Linked DNA regions of Homo sapiens. The protein of the gene in region 1 interacts with the protein of each later gene in a pairwise test. Each region holds a gene or a part of one and is shown in the gene's direction. Other genes may lie near its edges.

Region 1 (3,823 bases):
GCAACTCATGCTGTCAATGTAGAGTGAAGGCCAGACATTTCATAAGAAATATGCAAATGTCCCCAGACTCAGAAACTTCTTTTTTACTTTATTTGTCCCTTCACTCCAAGGGAAGCTAACATCTTGGAACTTTGTGTAGATGCTACCAAGAAGAAGAAGAGGGGCCCAGAGGCATGCAGAACCCAGCTGAAAAAGAACAACCCACTTATGTCTGAAGTTCTAAACCAGCTTTAACTACTCTTGTTAAGAGCTGAGGAAGGGACTTAGGAGAAAGGGGACCAAACTCATTCCTCCTCTCCTTACGAATTTCAGTATAACTTGTTCTAAGCTAACTTTTATTGAATGTTGTGGGCTGACTGCTATTCTAAGTCATTTGCTTCTCTCAAACACCCTAAGAAGTGCTTTGACCCATTTTACAGATGAAGAAACTGAGACCCAAAGAGGTTAAGTAACTTTCCAAGTGGCGAACACAGGTGGCAGAGAAGATTGAAGATTCAAACTCTGGCTGTCAGCCTCCAAAACCTGAATTTACCACTGATCTCCATGGCATTGGTTTGGATTAGATTACCTTTAACATCTTTTCCAACTCTGAGATTCTAGGATTCTCTGATGTCAGGACATTATAAACCTATTATAACTCTCCTAAATTTGTCAAACCAATTCTAGATCTCTATGATTACAGACATGATACTTTTAGAATCAATATTTAAATCAAGGTAGGATTATTACACAGAAAACACAACTGAGTAGAATCTACCTTTGCCATGTTGTTCTTTTCAGAATTGACCCTAAAACACAGCGCTATGTTTGTCAGAGCCAGTCATTTGTAATGTGTCAGAATTTCGACTCTAGGCAAGTGCTAGGAGCTAAAATGCAGGTTCCTTCAAACTTCCAAGTAGCTGCGGTGCCAAGCTGATTTCGATGAGTTGAGTTCTTACTGAGCAGTTCAAATGACCAGACTGTAACCAGGGGCTTCATTCTCTCACCCACGAAGCACTAGGGCAGTCAAGGGGAAAGACTGACGCAGAAGGAATGAGGTTCCCATGGGCTGGGTCCAAAAGACCTAGAGCGAGTGCTTAGTTGAAACATTTGCCAAAACCTCAAGGAACACCCACACAAAAATAAGAAGTTGCTCGGCACAGAAGTCAGGGTAGGGGATGTTCTTCGAAGGCCACACTCCATGGCAGGCATACAGCAGCACGCTTAAACATGGTTCCTGTTAAGGCTAGAGAGGCACCATTCACATAGAAGAAGTCATCATCGTGACTCTACCCACCCCGCGCCCCCACCGCGTAATTGAATGCTGAGTGTGGACGGCACTTCTTCCAGCACTTGGCTGCGTTACCGTGCTCAGTTGGCAAGCCTTGGGGGAGAAGAGAGGTTCAGAAGGAAGACCATCTGAGTCCATCAGAACAATGTGTGCTTTTAACAAGGCAGGGGCGCCCAAACTCAGTAGGTCCAACAGACCAAGTTATGCTATGAAGGTCTTGTGGACCACCTACCCCCGCCAACCAGTCACCACTTAAAAGATGAGAAAACGCCAGCTCACAGGCCAAATGGGAGGCATTTAGAAGAGACACCAATGAAGAGATGTCTGGCTTTGTATTAATTACTGTAGGTAAATTAATACCAAATGCCAGGAAGTAAAGTAGAGGCATTTTCCTATTATAAACCCTTGGGACAAGCCCAGAGACCACCAGCAGTCCAGGGCTTGTGTACGCTGAGAACTGAGGGGATAACAGAATTGTGCAACACCTTGGTGCCCCACCGCCCCCGTTACCAAATCTCACAGTTCACAGTATCGCCTTGGCACACTGGGCTTGTGTAATACTCATGGACTTGACCTGGAATCACAAAGCGGACTCAGCTTCTGTTACATTCATTCACCCCAGTGACTCTGGGCACACACTGTGCCTCTGAAGGAGGCACAGTGGCCATAAATGGAAATAGCATTTGCCTGCTTCTGGGGACCTTGGTCATAGACTTCTGAGGCTTTCCTGGGAGCCAGTCTAAGATAATGGGTAAGAGTATGGACTCTGAAGGCAGAGTCCTCTGCTTGGAATCCTAGCCCTGCCATTTCCCAACTGTGTGGCCTTAACAAGCTACTTAGCCTGCCTGTGACTCAGGCTCCTCATCTATAAAATGGGCATAATAGTTCCTACCTCATAGGGTTGTCATGGTGATTCGTGGGCTAATATTAAAGGAGATTTCTCAACCTCAGTACCATTGACATTTGGGGCCGGATAATTCTTTGTTCTGGGGGCTGTCCTGAGTATTATGGGATGTTTAGCAACCTCCCTACCCTCTACGAACTGTTGTGACAACCAAAATTGTCTCCAGACATTGCCACATGTCCCAAATATTTCCTAGGGGGGCAAAATTGCCTCCAGTTGAGAACCACTGTATTAGATTATGTCGTAGATACAAATAGCCAAATATCAGCAATTTCACGTGGTTCAATCTAACAATTATAAAGTATTTAACAGTTAAAACTCTTTGAACTTTGTAGATACATTTATGTGCTTCATCTGGGATAAACGAACCCAATGCTTTCACCAGACGCTCAGAAGAATAAAAAACATGGAGAATTTCTAGCTTGAATTCAACGTTCACCAGCCAAATAGAATTTCTATAAAGTGGGGTTTGTAATACATCCCTCCCAGGGCTCTTTTAAGGATACTGCAAGGAGAATGTGAGTGAGAATGTTTTTGTGGGCTGGAAAGTGTCACAGAGATATCATGAGAATGCTGGCTGAGTTCACGGGACTCAGGTCCTAAGGTTGACAAAGAAAAAGGACCTTTGTCACAGCTACTTCTCTGGATTTCTGAAAAGGTGCTGGGATGTCAGACATGTGTAGCCGAAGGAGTGTTGTGGGGCAGTTGGAATGGGGGGTATGGCTGGCTGCACAGGAAGGTTTCTCTGGGAAGGCACCAACCTGGCTAGTCAAGAGGATCGGTGGCTTCATCTGGGGTGAAGGGGGCCCTGGGGTGGGTAGATCAGTGACCGGCCACTGGACAGCTGAATAGGGGAGCGAGATTCCCTCAGATCCAATGTCAGCAAGCCTTCTGGGTACTGAGACTCCTCTCCTGTGTTCCTCTTATTTTATTGATACATAATAAATGGACATATTTTGAGAGTCCATGTGGTATTTTGATATATTCAAAAATGTATAGTAATCAAATCAGGGTAATTGGGATATTCATAACCTTAAACATTTATCGTTTCTTCATGCTGGGAACATCTGAATTATCCTCTACTAGCTACTTTGAGATATACAATAAGTTATTGTTTACTGTAGTCATTCTACTGATTCAATGAACACTGGGTCTTACTTGTTCTGCGTACTCGTATTTTTGTACCCATTAATTATATCTCTTTGCCCCAATCCTTATTACCTTTCTTGCCTCTGGTAACCACCAATCCACTGTCCATCTTTATGAGATTTACTTTCTTAGCTCCCACATGAGTGAGAACATGGTGTATTTGTCTTTCTGTGCCTGGCTTATTCCGCTTAGCAAAACGACCTCCAGTTCCAGCTGCATTGCCACAAATGACAAGATTTCATTCTTTTTTCTGGATGAATCATATTCCATTGGGTATAGATACCAGGTTTTGTCTATCCATTCATCTGTTGATGGGCACTTAGGTTGATTTCATATCTTGGCTATTGTGAATATTGCTGCAGTCAACATGAGAGTGCAGACCCCTCTTCCATATTCCGATTTCCTTTCCTTTGGATACATACCCAGCAGTGGGATTAGGGATCATACGGGTGTCCAAACTGGGAAAGAAGAAGTCATGATGTTCCTTTTGCCCACAGATG
Region 2 (4,406 bases), on another chromosome or scaffold:
CATTCTTTACCTGTGGCCTGCAGCATGGACAGGTGCATTCTTGCTGCTTATCTGAAAAATATGATCCACAGAAATAACTTGAATCTTTTTGCCCATTTAAAATGTGCTCTAGGTTCTCTGGTTCTCTGTACTAACTATAGAAAGCCATCTAGTCACAAGTTTCTCCTTCCTGTGGTCTCCATTTGGGCAATACAATTAAGAAAAATACGTTTCCCCACATAACAATTCTTCCAATTCTTTTCCCCTTCTTTGATGCTTTTATGATAGATTATGAATGGTCATCAGTGATTTTCTGTAAATGCCACGTTTCCTTTTTGCCAAGACAAAGAGTGAGACTAAGGGACCATCTAGTGCTTCCTCTTGTGGTATAGAGGCTAAACAGCGTGAGTTCTGATATTAGTTTCCTTTGATTTAAATGCAAGTGTCTTCATTTAATAGCTGTATGATCTCAGAAAAGTTATTAAACTCTATGAGTCCTAGTTTCCTGATTTGTAAAGTGGGGGCTAATATGAATAGCTTGTAATAGCACCTACCATATGCTAGGCATGATTTTAGGCACTTTAAACATATTAGCTCATTTAATTTTCCATTAGCTTATTTAAAATTCCTACTCTACGATGTAGGTAATTTATATCATTCTCCTTTCTCAGATGAGAAACTGAGACATGAAGAAGTAAAGTAACTTGGCCAAGGTCAGAATTAGTAAGTGGTAGAGCTGGGTTTGTAAAGCCAGGTAGTTGGATCCCAGAGGCTATTTACTAACCAGTGTGCTATATTGCCTCTCTATTAAATTATTGATGATAAATAACTCATCACAGTGTTCGGCACATAACATTTATTGTCAGCTAGTATTATCACTACCATCACCTGTTCTTATCTTTCTTCATTTTGTCACTCTTGCTTCTGCTGGATTGGTTGTGTAGTTTATTGCCCCCACTGCCACAAGAGACAGCAGCAACAGTGATCTAGGTTGAAATAGCTAGCGAATCCCTCTTCACTTTATGTGCTTTGTATTTAAACCACAAATATGACAGAGACCTATGAAAGGAGACTAAACCTCTTTTTGGTCGTGTAAAAATTATATTCCTGCAATCTCCAACCCTCCAGCAACAAGCCAACAAAAACTGCGCAAAGCAAGGGAGAAATTTTAGAAGTGGTAGACTTCAAGTAAAATTCCTACCATTCTTTAATAAACAGGGGTAAAAATTTCAGAAAGTAATGAAGGTTGTGAAAGCTGATGAACAAAGACTTTGCTACTATAATAAATTTCCTAGTCTCTACTCACTAATTTCTATTAGAATGCCAATATCAGGAAAAAAGGAAGAGAAAATTCTGTAAATAATTACTATATTTTTCTCCTACCAAGTAAGCCACTGACTTCAAAATTCTCTAGCACATTTGTGGAAACTTCATTTTTTTTGTTTGAGATTTATTTGAATGAGCTGTTATGATTGGAGACAGTGAGAATTTCAGATTAATGTTTTGCAGACAAAAAAAAACCTCTCTGGAAAGCTGGCAAGGGTTCATAAGTCAGCCCTAGAATTATGTAGGTTGAAGGCTCCCAGTGGACAGACCAAACATATAAGAAGGAAACCAGAGATCTGGTGCTATTACGTCCCAGCGTCTGAGAGAACGAGTAAGCACAGAATTCAAAGCATTCTGCAGCCTGAATTTTGAAGGTAAGTATGAACAATTTATATATAATTTACTTGGAAAGTAGAACATACATTAAATGAAAATATTTTTTATGGATGAACTTCTGTTTTTCCTGTGTTTTAACACTGTATTTTGCAAAACTCCTGAATTATTTAGCTGCTGTTTCTCTTACAGGAGTGTGTTTAGGCACTAAGCAAGCTGATTTATGATAACTGCTTTAAACTTCAACAACCAGTAAGTCTTCAAGTGGAATTTATTATTGATTCTTTTATGTTAATTTGTTAGGTCAAAAGAAAAATCTTTAGAGCAAAATAAAAGTTTTGCTCTTTATTAGGAGGTTCTTTAGATATTACACTTTTAATTGGGTAGCTTATTTGCATGTATTTTGAAACTATCTAAAGTAAATAGTGTTTCCTTTGTATGCTTATCTTTAGCTAATGTGTTTTTTTTTTTGGTTTTAAAATAATGCTTCTAGTGAAAAAAATCACAAAAACCTCAACACTGTAACGTTTGAGAGCAACGGCTATTCAGTTCGGTTAAACCGAAAAGAGAGAAAAAGAAAAATGATAAGACTATATCATGATTAATCATTGATGTTCATTTCTCATTTCACTGAGCAATCTAAACTACTTCTACTTGAACCTAACATAGGTTTGGCTGTTTTTTTCTTTATCTGATTTAATTGAAAATGGATTGTTTAGATATTAAATAGACCAAAATTAGATATCTATATCTAAAACTAATATTCTCTATTAAAAGGAGAAGACTTAGAAATATAAATATATTTCATAACTTCTTCTTAACTATATTATTATTGTGAAAACAATAGAAAAGTAAAACTAAAGGAATTATTTTTAATTATTAAAGACAAACCATGATTCCCCATCACAATATGTTCCTTTGGCATATTCTCTTTTAGTTTTTTATATACTTATTTTTTCCATTGCTTATGTTACTTATATTTTCCACAGCTGTAGTGATTTGTATGTAATTAGTTACTTAAATAGAGCATTTCTCTATGCAATAGCAAGCAGCAGTGTGGTTTCTAGAAAGTATACAAACAGAGATATATGCTCAAGTGTTTTTTGAAAGATTAACTTTTCTTACCTCTGGGTTTCTTATTTGTTTCACACATTTCCTGCCCTGACTAATCTTTTGAAATATTAATTTTCTTTAAATCTTTCAAAAACATCATAGAAAAGATGGGCAAAAGGTAGTTTTATTCAGAACTTTGAATCTCTGAAATGTCTTTTTTCTACTATCAGGAAAATTATTTCTCCTTTTTCAAGAGGTAAAATGAATTCTTGTTTTACAAGCCATGGCTCTGTTTCTTAATGTTTTCTATAATCACTCACTTTTTTTTTGCTTTTGACAAACATTCAAAATGCTAATGATTCAAGGATGTCCTCAGCTCTGTATGTGTTCTAAGAGTTCTATGTTTTTTCTCCACAGAAGGCATAAGAACTAGGAGCTGCTGACATTTCAATATGAAGGGCAACTCCACCCTTGCCACTACTAGCAAAAACATTACCAGCGGTCTTCACTTCGGGCTTGTGAACATCTCTGGCAACAATGAGTCTACCTTGAACTGTTCACAGAAACCATCAGATAAGCATTTAGATGCAATTCCTATTCTTTACTACATTATATTTGTAATTGGATTTCTGGTCAATATTGTCGTGGTTACACTGTTTTGTTGTCAAAAGGGTCCTAAAAAGGTTTCTAGCATATACATCTTCAACCTCGCTGTGGCTGATTTACTCCTTTTGGCTACTCTTCCTCTATGGGCAACCTATTATTCTTATAGATATGACTGGCTCTTTGGACCTGTGATGTGCAAAGTTTTTGGTTCTTTTCTTACCCTGAACATGTTTGCAAGCATTTTTTTTATCACCTGCATGAGTGTTGATAGGTACCAATCTGTCATCTACCCCTTTCTGTCTCAAAGAAGAAATCCCTGGCAAGCATCTTATATAGTTCCCCTTGTTTGGTGTATGGCCTGTTTGTCCTCATTGCCAACATTTTATTTTCGAGACGTCAGAACCATTGAATACTTAGGAGTGAATGCTTGCATTATGGCTTTCCCACCTGAGAAATATGCCCAATGGTCAGCTGGGATTGCCTTAATGAAAAATATCCTTGGTTTTATTATCCCTTTAATATTCATAGCAACATGCTATTTTGGAATTAGAAAACACTTACTGAAGACGAATAGCTATGGGAAGAACAGGATAACCCGTGACCAAGTCCTGAAGATGGCAGCTGCTGTTGTTCTGGCCTTCATCATTTGCTGGCTTCCCTTCCATGTTCTGACCTTCCTGGATGCTCTGGCCTGGATGGGTGTCATTAATAGCTGCGAAGTTATAGCAGTCATTGACCTGGCACTTCCTTTTGCCATCCTCTTGGGATTCACCAACAGCTGCGTTAATCCGTTTCTGTATTGTTTTGTTGGAAACCGGTTCCAACAGAAGCTCCGCAGTGTGTTTAGGGTTCCAATTACTTGGCTCCAAGGGAAAAGAGAGAGTATGTCTTGCCGGAAAAGCAGTTCTCTTAGAGAAATGGAGACCTTTGTGTCTTAAACGTGAGAGCAAAATGCATGTAATCAACATGGCTACTTGCTTTGAGGCTCACCAGAATTATTTTTAAGTGGTTTTAATAAAATAATAAAATTTCCCCTAATCTTTTCTGAATCTTCTGAAACCAAATGTAACTATGTTTTATCGTCCAGTGACTTTCAGGAATTGCCCATT

Evidence for each region.
Region 2: the proteins of TIMP3 (region 1) and AGTR2 interact in binary tests that used the Homo sapiens proteins (3 or more experiments, as listed by UniProt).

The regions. Positions count from the first base shown.
Region 1 is NC_000022.11:32,853,429-32,857,251, forward strand, and holds part of TIMP3 (metalloproteinase inhibitor 3 precursor), read left to right. Parts: intron 1-3,820; coding exon 3,821-3,823.
Region 2 is NC_000023.11:116,169,138-116,173,543, forward strand, and holds the start of AGTR2 (type-2 angiotensin II receptor), read left to right. Parts: upstream 1-1,606; 5' UTR 1,607-1,679; intron 1,680-1,830; 5' UTR 1,831-1,890; intron 1,891-3,108; 5' UTR 3,109-3,143; coding exon 3,144-4,235; 3' UTR 4,236-4,406. UniProt on the Homo sapiens protein: Receptor for angiotensin II, a vasoconstricting peptide. Signals primarily via a non-canonical G-protein- and beta-arrestin independent pathways. Cooperates with MTUS1 to inhibit ERK2 activation and cell proliferation.